Regions from separate parts of the Homo sapiens genome. Here region 2 is linked to region 1. A link means that fine-mapping ties the variant in region 1 to the expression of a gene that starts in the linked region. Tissue or cell type: aorta. Region 1 holds a variant in brackets; the other region holds the start of a gene. All regions are shown on one strand. Distances are between the middles of the regions.

Region 1 (8,095 bases):
TGGATATAGACCCAAAAGAATGGAAAACAGGTGTTCAAACGAAAACTTGTAGACAATGTTCATAGCAGCACTATTCACAACAGCCAAAAGGTAGAAACAATGCAGATGTCCATCAACTGATGCATGGTTAAACAAAATGTGGTACAGCCAAATGAGAATATTATTCAGCCATAAAAAGGAATAAGTATTGATATATGCTACGGTATGGGTGAACCTTGAAAACATTATGCTAAGTGAAACTAGCCAGACACAAAAGGCCACATATTTTATGATTCCAATGAAATCAGCAAATCCATAATTTCTGCTTGACTAACACAAATTAGTGATTGCCAAGAGCCGAGGGAAGGGGAGAATAGGGAGTGGCTGTGTAATAGGTATAGGATTTTTTGGGGGGGTAATGAAAATGTTCTGGAACTACATAGTGGTGATGGTTACACAACATTGTAAATATTATTAAATGTCTTTAATGGGAAATTTTTTATGTGTATTTTACCACAAATATATACATATATATATATATATACGCATATATATACGCACATATATATACGCAGACATATATGCACATATATATACACACACATATATATATACACACACACATATATATACACACATATATAAATATTTGATGTCTTATATCCTGTATTTAAAGGGTCTGGCACAGTGCCTGGCATATAGGAGGTGATTTAAAAAAGCAAGCAACGCAGGAGCCATTACAAAGCTGGAAGTGCCTCTGGGGTTGTCTTAGCCAATCCCCTCATTCCTGAATGAGGAAACTCAGGCCCGGCGAAGGAAAAGAGAAAATGACCAATGTTACATAATAACAAAACCTTTATTTCTAGTGGGCATCCCAGTTAAGCCTTTTCCACACTTCTATGAAATAGGCAAACCAGGTATTAATATCCCCATTTTACAGGTGAAGAAACTGTGGCTCTGAGAGGTTAAGAACCGACAACCAGGTCTAACTCTGAGCCTTTGCTGACTCCTCTTCCATCTGACTTTGAAAAGCTGGAGGGCTCAGGGCTCGCCTTTCTGTATCCTTCCCATGCCTTTCTTTACATACTGACTATATAAATGGCTTTCTGTATTACATATATTGACTATATAATGGCTTTCTGTATCCTTCCCATGGCTTTCTTTACATACTGACTATATAATGACAACTCTCAAATTCCTGTTTCCAATTCCTACTCTTTTCTGAATTCCAGATTTGTATGGAGTCTACCTGGATGTCTAATGGACATTTCAGCCCAATACGTTCAAAGAACACCACATCCCACCCCTCCCCTAAACCTTCTCGGTTTCGCATCTCACCATCTTAGAAAACAGCTGCACTACTCACCCAGTTGCTCAGGCCCAAAATCTAGTAAGCATCTTTTATTCTACTGTTTCTCTATACCCATAATGAATCTATCACCAGGTCCTATTGTTCTCTCTGCAAAATATACCCAGACTGTGACCTCTTCATCATGTCCTCCACTAGATACCACACTAGCTTGTGTTGCCTTTGTACCTAGATGATGCACTTGCCTCCCAAACTGGTCTCCCTGCTTCCTCCGCCCTTGCCCCTTACAATCCGTTTGCTACATAGCAGTGTGAGTAATCTTTAAAGGTGTAGAGAAGACAGTATCACTTTTTCTGCTCATAGCCTTCCAAGAGCTTCCCATTACACTCCAAAAAAAATCTAAACTCTTTTCTGTAGCCCTCGAGGCTTAAGCCTTTGCCTTCACCTTCTAGCACTCTCCCCTTGGCTCACTCCACTCCAGCCACTTCTCAAATACACCAAGCTCAGTCCCATCCTCTGCCCAATTCCCTCCCTGTCACATAGCTCGCTTCTTCACTTCCTGTCTCTCTGTTCAAATGCCAAACCTTGAACACCTTGCCTCCCACCGTCCTGCAGTCTACCGTGCTTCACTGTTTGTTCTTCATCTGACATAATATTATTCACTTACTCATTCACTGCTTGTCTTCTCTACTAGAATGTGAGCTCCAGGAAGGGGGCATTTTGCTTGCCTTGTTTACTGCTATACTATAGATGTTCAGTGCTATTTGTTGAATGAATAAGTGCTCCCCAAGAGTTCCTAGCCCTACACCAGCAGAGCAGAGATTTGGCGGGGAGGGGAATATACACCCCTTCCCCCAGCAGCCCCTTACCTGTCTTTGTATTTGGACAAATTCTCTTCCTCCCAGGCAGTGTTTCCACCTCCAAAGTTGTCCCGGATGGTTCTCTCCAGGCCCTGGAAACAGAAAATTAGTAATAGCTAAGTACAGTGCCTGGCACATGCTAGCACTTCACTGTTCTACTGACTAGGAAACTGAGGCACAGAAAGGCAACCTGCCTAGGGCCATACAACTAGTAAGAGACCAAGATGAAACTTAAATCCACGCAGATTTGCATCCCAGAGTTCCCCACTCTAAATCGCTGTGTTCCCCTCTAACGAGGCTGCCGGTGCACCCACCTTGTTAAAGCTGTCAACCAGTCCCCGGCAGGTATGACACGGATGGGGCTGAGGCGGGGGAGAAGACTGGGGAGGTGGAGAGGGCTGGAGCCAGATAGGTCCTGGGAGGTTGAGGAAGAGGCTGAGGCCCCAGAGCATAGCTGGGACTAGGCCCTTCGGGGGCCATGGGGCCATCTTTACCCAGGCTGGGGACCTGCAGATAGAGGGCGTGGAGAGGCTTCACTGAAGGAGTCAGGCCCCACGCGAGAAAGAAAAAGGTCTGTTCTAAGGTGCCGTGGCGCTGGGATCTGCGTTATTACAAGCAAAAGAGGCCAAACTGGGTATTGCAGGGGCTGTGGGGATGGGTGGGGAAAGGCGCATAAGATGCAATTCCAGAAGAGAAATAAGTTATCCTCGCTAGCATGGGGTGGAGAGGAAAGTGGCCTCGCTCCTTGACAAGGGGGCAGAAGTCAGCCTCTTGTCTGAGGGTCTGATAAAGAATATTAGGGGCCGGATCCGCAGAATTAGGGAGAAGAGATCAGATTCCAAGTACTGAAGGAGAGGAGGCCAGAGGGGTTGTCTTGGGGGAGGTGTCCGGAACCCCGGGCTTGGAGGGAGGAGCCCGGATCCGGATATGAAGGGAAGGGATCAGATTCAGGGCCTCGCAGAAGGGCAAAGGCACGGCCCACGAGCCGGCAGAGAAGGATCCAGACCCTCGTAGGCCACGGAGAAGGAAGAAGCGACCGCCCCAGCCCGCGGGCGCCGTGGGCCGTCTCCTCACCGCGTCGCTGCCACAGCCTGCGTAAAACGCACAACCCCCACCCGCGCCGCAGTCCAGGGGGCGGAGCTTGCCGCCCAGCCAATGGCGACGGGCCATGTGCCATTACGTCACCCCACGCCAGCCAACCAGAGGCGGCACCGAGCTGCACCT[G/C]TCCGGGCTTTAAAGGGCCGCGGGGCTAGGGAATGACGTTTGCCAGCCCCGCCACTGAAACGGAGACGCGTGTGGGCCACATGGGTAGAAAAACAGCGTCTGCCTTTATTTAAGTCCCGTCCCCCGCCCCAGGTCCCGCGCCTGGTCCCACCCCGCGTCCCGGCGCGGGAGTCCCCGGGGGATGGAAGTAGCTATCCAGGGCTGGCTGAAGGGCCCGGGACACTTGCTCCGCTCTCTCTTGGAGCCGCCCGGAACGCGGGGCGCGAGGCTGCTGCAGGGCCCCCAGGAAGTCTGGCAGTTGGGAGGGCAGTGTGAAGACGGGCACGGTGCGGAAAAGGGCGGGTACGGCGTCCGGGTGGAGCAGCCTGTCGAAGCAGGCCCCCACGTAGCTGCCGGGCGCCCGGCCCTGCAAGAAGTCGGGCAGCACGCAGCTGAGCGAGGCGCGGAAGGCGTCGTGCGGGCCGTGCGCCCCGGGCCCGGACACCCCATCCTGTAGCCACTCGCTGCACAGCGCCACCGCACCGGGAGAGAAGAGCAAGACCACCACGCCGCCCTCCTGCAGGGTCTGGCGCCGCTGCGCGTGAAACCAAGCCACGGGCCCCTGCGCGCTCAGTTCACGACGGCTCCACAGGTCTACGGCCACGCGCAGCGGCAGCTGGCACAGGGCCGACGCCAGGGCGCCCACCAGGCGCTCGAAACCCGAGTCATCGGCTGAGTAGAGGAGCAGAGCCGCGCGGCCCCTGGCGGCCGCTGCCGGAGAAAACAGATGGGGAGGGAAGAGGTGAGCTGGCACAGGCCTGGCTCCCCGGGGGCGGCCCTCCGCCCAGCGCTTGCTCCCACTCACCCCCCGAGCGGACGTCCTGTTTCAAGAGCCTCAGCCACCCTGTTAGGGGAGAGGGGCGGAGGCAGCCAGTGAGCTCGGCCGCCGCTTTCCCTCGGAGAACTCCCACAGCCACTCTGGTCCTCCCCCAGGGGAATGGGGAGCCGGGAAGCGCTCACCTTTCGCGTGATCCTTTTTGAGAAGGAGGATGAGGGAAAGCGCAGCGGCAAAGAGTAGGCAGGCCAGCCACACGAGGGCCCAGCGCTTGTGGATGTCTGGGAGACCCAGAGAAGAAGAGTTAGAAACTTACCCTCCACAGAGAAGAAAAACTGAGACTTAACAGAAATGAATTGGGCCGGGTGCGGTGGCTCATGCCTTTATATAATCCCAGCACTTCGGGAGGCCGAGGCGGGCAGATCACGAGGTCAGGACATCAAGACCATCCTGGCTAACACGGTGAAACCCCGTCTCTACTAAAAATACAAAAAATTAGCCGGGCGTGGTGGCACACGCCTGTAATCCCAGCTACTCGGGAGGCTGAGGCAAGAGAATCGCTTGAACTCGGGAGGCAGAGGTTGCAGTGAGCCGAGATCGCGCCATTGCACTCCAGCCTGGGCGACAGGGTGAGACTCCTCTCAAAACAAAACAAAACAAAACAAAAAACGAAGAAATGATTTGCCCAGAGTCCACAGCACAGTGTCAGAGCCAGTGGATGAATATAGCTCCATCTGTTTAGGGGTCTTTGAATAAGTAATGTCACCCTCTGCCTCAGTTTTCTCCTCTGTAAAGTTGTACCTGTGTCATAGGGTTGGTGTGAGGACTAAATATATTAATACATATAAAGCTTAACACAATGTGTTAATACATACTTAACACAATGCCGAGCATCTTAAGTGCTAAAATGTCAGCTGTTTTTCTCCCCTAAGCTAGGGTTGCTGGGCCCTTGATCTTGCTGTCCTGGGTGTCTGCAACTACCTGGTGTCCCTGCCCTGTCTTTTTTTTTTTTTTTTTACCTCCAATTGATTTGCCTTGAATTGATTCATGACAGCCTCAGAGATCTTTTAAAAATATAAATTTGGGCCAGGTGCGGTGACTCACGACTATAATCCCAGCACTTTGGGAGGCCGACGCGGGCGGATCACGAGGTCAGGAGTTCAAGACCAGCCTGGCCAAGATGGTGAAACCCCATCTCTACTAAAAATACAAAAATTAGCAGGGCATGGTGGCAGGCGCCTATTAATCCCAGCTACCCGGGAGGCTGAGGTAGAGAATTGCTTGAACCCGGGAGGCAGAGGTTGCAGTTAGCCGAGATCGCGCCATTGCACTCCAGCCTGGGCAACAGAGTGAGACTCTGCCTCAAAAATAAATAAAAAAATAAGTATATATATATATATATATATATATATATATATGTGTGTGTGTGTGTGTGAAATATATAAAAATTTGATCGTAGCTCCTGCTGCTCTCAACATAAGATCCAAATCCCCTACATGTCTCCTGCATCTTTATCTCATGACAGAAACCTGCCTGTCCAAGACCCTGTATCTCTACCCCCTTCCCCTAGCTCAGTCTTCAGAGTTTTGCTGGAACCTTCCCCCTGAGCCCCTCACCCCTCACCCCACCCAGGTCAGGTCCACATTGTATGCATTTACAGCACTGAACACTTGGTGGTGCTTCAGTAGCTCCCACTTTAAATGTAAGTGACTGGCTCATGTCTTGCTAGTCTTCTAGGGGTGGGGCGGGGGCAAGGATTTATATTTTTGGTGTTCCTGCGATCCCTGCAAGCTCTCATCATTTTTTGAGTGAATGAAGGAATGACCCTCTGTTTATCTGATCTCAGGGAAGGACAAGGCCATTGCATGTGCTGTGCCCAAGAGTGGTCCCTGTCAAGATCCCCACTCCTGGTACAGAAAGGAAAGGCAGTTCTTACAATACTCACATTTGTCCATGGGGCAGGCCCATAGCGCTCCCAAGTCATCGTCCCATAGCTGTAAGATACAAACAGAACCAAATCCAGGGCACCAGCCAGGTGTTCCAATATTCACCAAGCTCTGGTGGCCTGATCTCCAAATTCCCAGCATCAACTATGCATATCTCCCGGCTAAGGTTCCTGCAGCTGCTCTGCCTTTGTGCTGTGCCCACTGACTAGGGTATGACTTCTTCCATACCAAATCTGGCTTATAGGAAGAAATTCTTCCCGGAAGCTCTCCCTGGAACCCAAAACTTAGCACCTGTAGGTGTGGTTATCTGTTTATGGGTGTCTAGCCAACAGTGTGCTCCTTGGGGATAGGAACTGTGCTTCTTCTACTCTTAACTTTCCCAGGGCTGAACATAAAATAAGCCTAAATAGACAGTAGGTGAGTGCTAGTTTTAGGCCTGTTGCCCCTAGGCATTGAGGTGGGGCCCTTCTTCCACCAGCTCACCTGCAGACACTGGCCTGACTGCAGGTCTTGTAGTAAGTACTCTCCAAGGCGAGCTGCCCTCTGCCAAGCCAAAGGATGGGGGCACTGTTACCTGGAGGTAGCACCCTTAGGGCAGCACCTACCAGGCTACAGCTGGGTAGAATGAGGTAGAGGGGACTGGGAGACTTTGGTGATGCCGCTGAATATGGCCCTGGTCTGAGTCACCCCCCATGTTCCCAGAGACCGGCACAGGGTGGATGGAGTGAAAATTTGAGGCCAGATGTGAGATGCATTTGGAGAGATCTGTGGAGGAGGGTCGCCCAGTCCTAACCGTGGAGGCTTTGCTGGGTAGTGAAGTACAGCCACTGGGTTCCAAGGCACAGAGGGATCTGTTGTCCTGGGGGCCTCGTGTCTCCAACAGTAGCACATCGTCTTTGAGAGGCCCCAGGGAGTCTGGAAGGGGTGAGAGGCCACTCTGACCAAGACCCATCCTTGCTGGGATTGGCCACTTGCCTGCCTCCCATGCCCTGACCTTCACCCCTAGGAGGTGGCCCTGCCCCAGCTGCCCCCAGGCCCAACTCACCAGCCCACAAGCACTCCTGCAGCTGCAGCTTCTCCGAGCTGTTCACCTGCTGGGAAGAGACCATGGTTAGGGCCACTAAGAAAAGCAAAAGCCAAAGGCAGAAAGACCAGAATGGGGCAGGCAACAGAAGGCCTGTTGGGTTGGGAATCTGCACTCAATCTGACCTGAGGCAGATGTGGATTCAAGGCTGGGTGATTAGGAATCACTACATCTTTCTCTGCCCCAGCCTTGTGAGATCATCTGTATAAAGCGTCTTCTGACCCTAAAGCTGTTTTTATGTCTTACGGAGCATGGTTCCCCTCTCATCTAACCTTCTCAAAGAGATTCCTTTCTCACATGACCACCCTGCTAAAAATTGCAACCCCAGTCCCACCTTATCCCTTTCCCATGGTATTTGTATGCAATTTTAAGATACTATATGATTTATTTACAATGTCTGTTGCCTGCCTTTCTCCATTACAATATAAGTTCTATGAGGGTAGAGATGTTAGGGTCTATCACAAGTGCCTAAAACAGTGACTTGTGCTGCTCAAAAAATCTTGAATGAGTGAATTTTTTTTTTTTTTGAGACGGAGTTTCACTCTGTCGCCCAGTCTCACTCTGTCACCCAGGCTGGAGTGCAGTGGCGCCCTCTCAGCTCACTGCAAGCTCAGCCTCCCAGGTTCACGCCATTCTCCTGCCCCAGCCTTCCTAGTAGCTGGGACTACAGGTGCCCACCACCACGACCGGCTAATTTTTTGTATTTTTAGTAGAGATGGGGTTTCACCATGTTAGCCAGGATGGTCTTGATGTCCTGACCTCGTGATCTGCCCGCCTCGGCCTCCCAAAGTGCTGGGATTACAGGCGTGAGCCACCGCGCCTGGCCGGATGAGTGAATGTTCTTATAATCACCCTTTGAAACTGTAGAGCAACCCATTC
Region 2 (8,099 bases), 30 kb after region 1:
TCATGGTCATTCATGGCTGCTCCAGGTCTCTGCCTGCCTTTCCTGTTCTTCCCGGTGACAAGGCCGTCTGCCTTTTCTGTCTAGTCCAAAGAAGTCTTTAAATTTAATTTAATTAATTAATTAATTAATTTATTTATTTATTTTTAGCAGCAGGGTTTCACTATGTTGCCCAAGCTGGTTTTATACTCCTGGCTTCAAGCAATCCTCCTGCTTTGGCCTCCCAAAGTGCTGGGACCACAGGTGTGAGCCACCATGCCACGCCCAAAGAAGTCTTAATGATAGACCCTTCAGCTTGTAAGGAGGTCTTGGACAGTTACCATCCCTCTCTGGGCCTCAGTTTCCTCATTTGTACAATGGGTGGCCTCTTTTGCTAGCACTGTGTGATCGGGCTTTTTACAGGGGGATGACACACCATACCTGGACATCATAGGGACTGCTCAGCTCTTCACACTCCAGTGCCCACTGGTGACAAAGACGCACGCTGACCTCAGGGCCTGAAGATATGGTCACCCGAATAGCCCGGGCCTCAGGCAGCAAATCAAAGGAGAACTCGGGTCCTGGGGAGAGGAAGGACTCAGTGGCCTTGTCTCTTGGCCTTAGCACTGGTACCACCACTCAGCTGAACCCATCTCCTGTTGTACCCAGTGCCCACCTCCATGCCTTTGTGAGTCCAATCTGGGAAGACTTTCCCATGTCTCTGGATCCGAAGGTTGGGTCCTTTTAGAGCGAAGTCCCTTGTGGGAGATGTCTGGGGAGGGGATGGAAATGTGATGGCTCTTCTCAGACAGGTGACGACGAGGCAGCAGCTTCCTCTAAAGGCAGAGAACAAGGTTGGCCTCAGGCCAGAAATCAGGAAACCTGGCTTCTGTTTCTGCCTCTGGAACCTGAGGTACTACAGGCAAGTTGCTCAAACTCTTTTGGCCTCCCTAGCTGTGTAATAGACAGAATACTTCATCTCCACACTTTCTGTCTCACATGGCTGGAGAACCAAATGAGAGGCCAGAAAGCAAAGGTCTGTGGGGCGTCAGGTAGGGCTGGAACTGACAGGGAGAGTACCTGAGCAGGTGCTGGCATCTTGTGTCTCCTATAGAACTTGAATGTGGAAGACTTTTTGGATTTCTGCACCAGGAGGTGGAAGAGGCCCCGTTGAAGACCTGTGCAGGGGAGACGTACTTACTATCTAGCCCTCATTACCCCCTCCCCTGCCTGGAGATGTGGCCCAGTGTTAGTAAGTAATTTTATTTTATTTTATTTATTTATTTATTTTGATATGGAGTTTTGCTCTTTGTTGCCCAGGCTGGAGAGCAATGGCGCGATCTCGGCTCACTGCAGCCTCCACCTCCCAAGTTCAAGTGATTCTCCTGCCTCAGCCTCCCAAGTAGCTGGGATTACAGGCATGTGCCACCATGCCCGGCTAATTTTGTATCTTTAGTGGAGACGGGGTTTCTGCGTGTTGGTCAGGCTGGTCTCGAACTCCCAACCTCAGGTGATCCGCCCGCCTCGGCCTCCCAAAGTGCTGGGATTACAGGCATGAGCCGGCCTGATAGTAAGTCGTTTTAAATCAAGGAGGGTAAGGATGTCAAGCTTCTTTAATCTTGAAAATTATAAAGCAATCAAGAAAAGATTAATTTCTTAAGCAGAGAAAAAGCTATATATACAAAGATATTCATTTTAGCATTCTTTAATTTTTATTTTTTGGAGACGGAGCCTTGCTCTGTCACGCAGGCTGGAGTGCAGCGGCGCGATCTTGGCTCACTGCAATCTCCGCCTCCTGGCTTCAAGCGATTCTCCTGCCTCAGCCCCCAGAGTAGCTGGGACTACAGACGCCTGCCACCACGCCCAGCTAATTTTTTGTACTTTTAGTAGAGACGGGGTTTCACCATGTTAGCCAGGATGGTCTCGATCTCCTGATCTCAAGATCTGCCCACCTCAGCCTCCCAAAGTGCTGGGATTACAGGCGTGAGCCACCACGCCAGTCCCTGCCTCTCTCTCTTTTCTTTCTTTCCTTCATTCCTTCCTTTGTTCCTTCCTTCCTTCGTTCCTTCCTTCCTTCCTTCCTTTCTTGACAGGATTTTGCTCTGTCATGGAGGCTGGAGTGCAGTGGCACAATCACTGCTCACTGCAGTCTTGAACTCTTGGGCTTAAGCAATCCTCTCACCTCAGCCTCCTGAGTAGCTGGGATTACAGGCATGCACCATCACACCTGGCTAATTTTTGTATTTTTAGTAGAGACGGGGTTTCACCATGTTGGCCAGGCTGGTCTCAAACTCCTGACCTCAGGTGATCTGCCCGCCTCAGCCTCCCAAAGTACTGGGATTACCGGCATAAGCCACTGTGCCCAGCCCTGTAGCATTATTTCTAACAACAAACAATTAGAAAAATTAAACACTGCCTATTCTTTTTTTTTTTTTTTTTTTTTTTTTGAGACAGGGTCTCACACTGTCATCCAGGCTGGAGTGCAGTGGCGCTATCTTAACTCACTGCAACCTCCACCTCCTGAATTCAGGTGATCCTCCCACCTCAGCTTCCCAAGTAGCTGGGACTTCAGGTGTGCACTACCACATCCAGCTAATTTTTGTATTTTTTTGTAGAGATGGGGTTTGGCCATGTTGGCCAGGCTGGTCTCAAACTCCAGGACTCAAGCGATCCACCCACCTTGGCCTCCCAGAGTGCTGGGATTACAGGTGTGAACCATCATACCTGGCCCAGAAACTGCCAATTCTTTTTTTGGAGATGGAGTTTTGCTCTTGTCGCCCAGGCTGGAGTGCAATGGCATGATGTCGGCTCACTGCAACCTCCACCTCCTGGGTTCAAGTGATTTTCCTGCCTCAGCCTCCTGAGCAGCTGGGATTACAGGTGCCTGCCACCAGGCCCTGCTAATTTTTTGTATTTTTAGTGGAGACAGGGGTTTCACAATGTTGTCCAGACTGGTCTCGAATTCCTGACCTCAGGTGATCAGGCTGCTTCAGCCTCCCAAAGTGTTGGGATTACAGGCGTGAGCCACCGCGCCTGGCCTAGAAACTGCCAATTCTTAAGCAATGTAAGGGCATTTAGTATGTACCAGGCACTGAGCTGAGCAATTAAAATATAGAGTAAGAAAGAAGATCCTGCTCTACAAATAGATGGTAATAACAATAAATCCATAGCTTTTAATTCCAAGAATCTCAGCTGAAAAAAAACCTTCATAAAATTGTACAATTGTATTTGTGAATATCAGTCATAGCGTGCTATTTTAGGATAATCCAAGTCCCAGTTGAGGTTAAAACAAGACAAATATCTGTTCTAGTAAGTCCCACTTGCTCAGCCTAGGTGGTCCCTCAAAATGTTCTCTTCACTGAGAATGGCCCAAGGGGCTGTTTCTCATACCTGAGCCACCTGACAGCAGATGCTGGCACAAACAGCGGGAACAGTGCCAGACTCGCACACACCAAGGCTTTGTGGAGAAGAGGGCCCACCAGGTGCGGCAAGGGATATAGGCAGAACTTCCTGGGAAAGATGGAAGGGAAAGCAAATGATAGGGTCTAAGAAGGTCCCTCCTACCTCCAACAAGCTGGATTTGAGGCCAAGCTCTGTCACATCCTGGAAGTATGACTTTGGGGGTTACAGGACCTGTCTAAGGATCAGATTCCTCATTCATAAAGCGGGTCTGTTATAAAAATCAAAATTGTAGTGTATGGGAAAATGTCTTGTGAAGTAGAACATACCATAAAATAGGAAGGATTATTGTTGTATTACTGATAGAAGTGAGGGATCAGTTAAGGGGAGGAGCCAACATATATGGAGAACCTGGAGATTTACTCATGTTTCTCATCTAATCCTCTCTACAGATCAGAAGCAACACTGCCTTTAGTGTACAATCATTTCTACTATGCTACTACCCCTCAGAAACTGAGGGTCAGTTGGAGGGGTTAGGTGCACAGTCTGAGGCCACACGGGAGTCTGGCAGAACTGCAATGTGAACCCAGGCTTGTCATGATTCCAAATTTTTCCTTGATATTGTGCTACTTCCCGGGTTGGGAACTGAAAATTAGAATGGAGGGCTTGCTAGGCATCTGCAAAAATAGTGGGCGTGGGGAGGAGCAATGGGGCAGGAAATGCGACTCACCAGTGAAACTGTCATCCTGAGGCACAGGGCCCAGTAGGGAAAAGAAAGGAAAGAGCTATTATTAGGAGAGACTCCCATAAGGCACATTCCTGGGGTCTTTGCTTCAAATCAGCAAATTCTGAGCCCCATAGCTAATAGCCCATACCTTCTGGCTCTTATCTTCCCAGCTCCACCCTGTCCAGGCCCTCAGCACAAAGGACCTTGGCTACCCCTTTGAGACTAGGTAGAGGACACATCAAAGCTGCCACCAGAGCACAGGGACTGCGGAGGTAGCACAGGGCAGGCAGGGGAGTGGGGAGCTTTATGGCTGTGCCAGGCAGGTGTCCCTACCTGGCAGCAGCACCTTACCGTGTGGGAGGCCAGAGGACAGCGGGTGTTCCAGTGGGGCAGGTGGCGAAAGCCAATCCCAGCAGAGTCAGAGAGGTCGATGACTATGAGGAGGAGAGGCAGGAGCAGGGCTGCCAGTCTGGAGCTCCCCATGGGCTTCTGTGCAATTAGGGCTCCCGGAACATGGCTGCATGGCCTGAAGGTGGGTGGCAGGGCCTTGCTGTGCAGCAGCGAACACAGTACCAGCAGGAGCCCTCGCCCCAGCCTGCCCTGGCCCCGCCCTGCCCGAAAGCTCCTCCTTGATCCCAACCAGCCAGCCAGGCCACATTCCTTCCCCTCCAAGTGGAGGGACTGAGGAAAGCTTGTGCCCCCAAAAACCCTACTGCCCCCCACCTGAAAGACAAGGGGCTCCTGCTGTGGGTGAGAAGTAACAGGAAAGGGGCTAGCATCAGGTTGGGGGACGCACCCATTTCTTAGCCCCTCCTACTCCTGAAACACACTGCAGATCTGATCCACCCATCAGCACACTCTGGAACTTGTGTCTCCCATAGACATGCGCTTCACCCCCTCACTTAGAGAATTAGCCGAGCTCTTAAGCACTACTCAGCACTGGGTGCTGGAGATACAGAGGTGACTGAGGCACCATTTAGAGTGGGGAAGAAAAAAAGCACTCTAGGATGCACATGAAGCCCATATGTACCCTGGCTTCCCAACTGGTTAACTCTCAGGACTATAGCCGAGTTCTCTCTACCCATGAGCCAGGTCCAGCTCTTCTAGGCAAAGGGCTCCATACCAAAGGGGCCTCTAGCTTCAAGGACCCACTAGTCAGTACGCCCTGCTCAGGAAGCCCCAGAGCTCACAGCTGAGCCCTGGAGCAGAGGGAGCGGGCCCCACACACTGACCTGGTTTCCTGTGGTTTCCGGTGCTGGAGAAAGGCTGACGAGGCTCCATCTTTGTGGGAACCCTCCCCATCATCCCACAGCTTCCTCCCCTTCATGGAGCATTTGAGCAGCTTCAGCCCTCACCTTGGTAACACACACACTGGAAAGAAAGTTTGGGGCACACCTACCAGGTCAAGGCATCTTTTTTTTTTTTTTTTTTTTTTTTTTTGAGACTGAGTCTTGCTCTATTACCCAGGCTGGAGTGCCGTGGCACAATCTCTGCTCACTGCAACCTCCACCTGCTGGGTTCAACCGATTCTCTTGCCTCAGCCTCCTGAGTAGCTGGGAGTACAGGCACCTGCCCCATGCCTGGCTAATTTTTGTATTTTAGTAGAGACAGGGTTTCACCATATTGGCCAGGCTGGTCTCGAACTCCTGACTATGTGATCCACCTACCTTGGCCTCCCAAAGTGCTGGGATTACAAGCGTGAGCCACGGCGCCCAGCCAAGGCATCTTGAGATTGTTATTGTCCCCCTGCAATTCAATCTAGACCACCTTTCAGTGGCCTAACCACAGCCTGCTTTTGGCCAATTCTATTCCTGTCTTTAGGTTCATTGTCTGAAGGCTGCATCCTACCCATTATCCTAAAAGTACCCTCTAGCTTTTTGAGTTCATGAAAAGATAAAAACTCTTATTCTTTATGTTTCTCCAAGCCTAGCAGTAGATATTATGAAGTATGTGCTGTGTAATTGAATAAATGTCATGATACATTTCATCTATGTAGTTTATCTGTTTCACACTTCACAAAACACTTTTATATTTAATCCTCCTAACCCTACCTGTGAGACAGGTAAGTGTTAATTATTGTTTTCATTTCATAGAGAGATAAGGAAGCAGAGGGATAATGATTTGGACAAGGTCAAAGTCTATAGTTCAGGGAGCTCCCCTTTTGCTAGGCCCTCGCAACTCAACTCTCTCTTTTTTTTTTTTTTTTTTGAGACAGAGTCTCACTGTGTCACCCAAGCTGGAGTGCAAATGGTGCAATCTCAGGTCACTGCAATCTCCACCTCCCAGGTTCAAACGATTCTCCCGCCTCAGCCTCCCGAGTAGCTGGGATTACAGGTGCACGCCACCACACCAGACTAATTTTTGTATTTTTAGTAGAGACGGGTTTCACCATGTTGGCCAGGCTGGTCCTGGACTCCTGACCTAAGGTGATCTGAGCCCAGCTTGGCCTCCCAAAGTGCTGGGATTACAGGCATGAACCACAGCACCTGGCTTTTTTTTTTTTTTTTTTTTTTTGAGATAGTCTTGCTCTGTTGCCCAGGCTGGAGTGCAGTGGTGTGTTCTTGGCTCACTGCAACCTCCGCCTCCTAGGTTCAAGTGATTCTTGTGCCTTAGCCTCCTGAGTAGCTGGGATTACAGCTGTGCACCACTATGCCTGGCTAATTTTTGTATTTTTAGTAGAGACAGGGTTTTGCCACATTGGCCAGGCTGGTCTTGAACTCTTGGCCTCAAGTGATCCACCTGCTTCAACCTTCCAAAGTGCTAGGATTATGGGCATGAGCCACTGTGCCCGGTACCAATTCTCTATCATCCTATGGTCTTCCCTCACACAGCCTCATCTTCCTCTGCTCTTGGAACCCAAAAGGGGCTGCCTGACACAGACCCTAACACAGTATGCCTTTTGGCCTTGAAGTCCATCTCTGCAAACAAAACAGTAAGATCTGAAAGGAGGAAAGGGTGGTCTGGCCATACTAAGAATAGGTTAGAGAGCCTTCCCCCAAATTCTACCTAACTCACAGTGGTTTAGAGCTATATAAATATGAGGTTTCTTTCTTTTCTTTTTTTTTTTTTGAGACAGAGTCTCACTCTATCACCCAAGCTGGAGGACAATGGCGCAATCACCACTTACTGCAGCCTCAACCTCCTGGACTCAAGTGAATCCTCCCTTCACAGGCACACACCATTTTGCCTGGCTACATATAGGGTCTGGCTATGGTGCTCAAGCTGGTCTCAAACTCCTGGCCTCTAGCAGTTATCCTGCCTCAGCTTCCCAAGGTGCTAGGATTACAGGTGTGAGCCACTGTGTCTGGCCAATAATGAGTTTTCTTTTTTTTTTTTTGAGACGGAGTCTTGCTCTGTTGCCCAGGCTGGAGTGCAGTGGTGCGATCTCGGCTCACTGCAAGCTCCGCCTCCCAGGTTCACGCCATTCTCTTGCCTCAGCCTCCCGAGCAGCTGGGACTACAGGCACCCGCCACCTCACCCGGCTAATTTTTTGCGTTTTTAGTAGAGAGGGGGTTTCACCGTGTTAGCCAGGATGGTCTCAATCTGCTGACCTTGTGATCCGCCCACCTCGGCCTCCCAAAGTGCTGGGATTACAGGCGTGAGCCACTGCGCCCGGCCCAAATAATGAGTTTTCTAATGCTGGAGGCATGAAGTGAGAAACTTGGTTCTATTCCAAAACAATCCTTCTTCTTTACCCTTATCTTCTGATCTCTCACAGAGAAAATATTGGTTAATTGCTTCTGGTTAAGGTATGGGAGGAGAAGCAGAAAAGAAATGGAGATAAGAAGGAAGAGAGGAAGGGAAAAAAAGGAAGGAAGGAAAGAAGGGAGGGAGGGAAGAAAGGAGGGAGGGAGAGAAGGCAGCAGGGAGGGAAGGAGGAAGGGAGGAAAGAAGGGAGGGAGGGAGGAAGGGACGGAGGAAGAGAGGAAGGGAGGGAAGGAGGATGGGAGGAGAGAAGAGAGGGAAAGAGGGAAGAAAGGGAAGAAAAACAGCATTC

What was found. PIP is the estimated chance that this variant, and not a neighbour inherited with it, causes the effect.
Region 2: it holds the start of IL17RE, and the variant in region 1 is fine-mapped to the expression of IL17RE in aorta (GTEx, PIP 0.98).

Annotation. Positions count from the first base shown.
Region 1 is chr3:9,928,980-9,937,074 of GRCh38, reverse strand. IL17RC (interleukin 17 receptor C) reads right to left here. Exons shown (of 19, transcript NM_153460.4): 13 at 7,178-7,223; 14 at 6,926-7,047; 15 at 6,616-6,675; 16 at 6,132-6,180; 17 at 4,372-4,467; 18 at 4,217-4,255; 19 at 3,454-4,122. The coding sequence ends at 3,482. CRELD1 (CRELD disulfide isomerase 1) reads right to left here and starts at 3,241. Exons shown (of 11, transcript NM_001077415.3): 1 at 3,155-3,241; 2 at 2,463-2,655; 3 at 2,158-2,240. The coding sequence starts at 2,636. RefSeq lists an enhancer at 2,830-3,199 and silencers at 3,300-3,629, 4,210-4,269. The variant G/C (reference allele first, on the strand shown) is at 3,373.
Region 2 is chr3:9,899,419-9,907,517 of GRCh38, reverse strand. It overlaps IL17RE (interleukin 17 receptor E), which reads right to left and starts at 4,670. Exons shown (of 16, transcript NM_153480.2): 1 at 4,454-4,670; 2 at 4,106-4,121; 3 at 3,367-3,486; 4 at 1,057-1,154; 5 at 653-812; 6 at 418-557. The coding sequence starts at 4,585. RefSeq lists an enhancer at 3,797-4,466.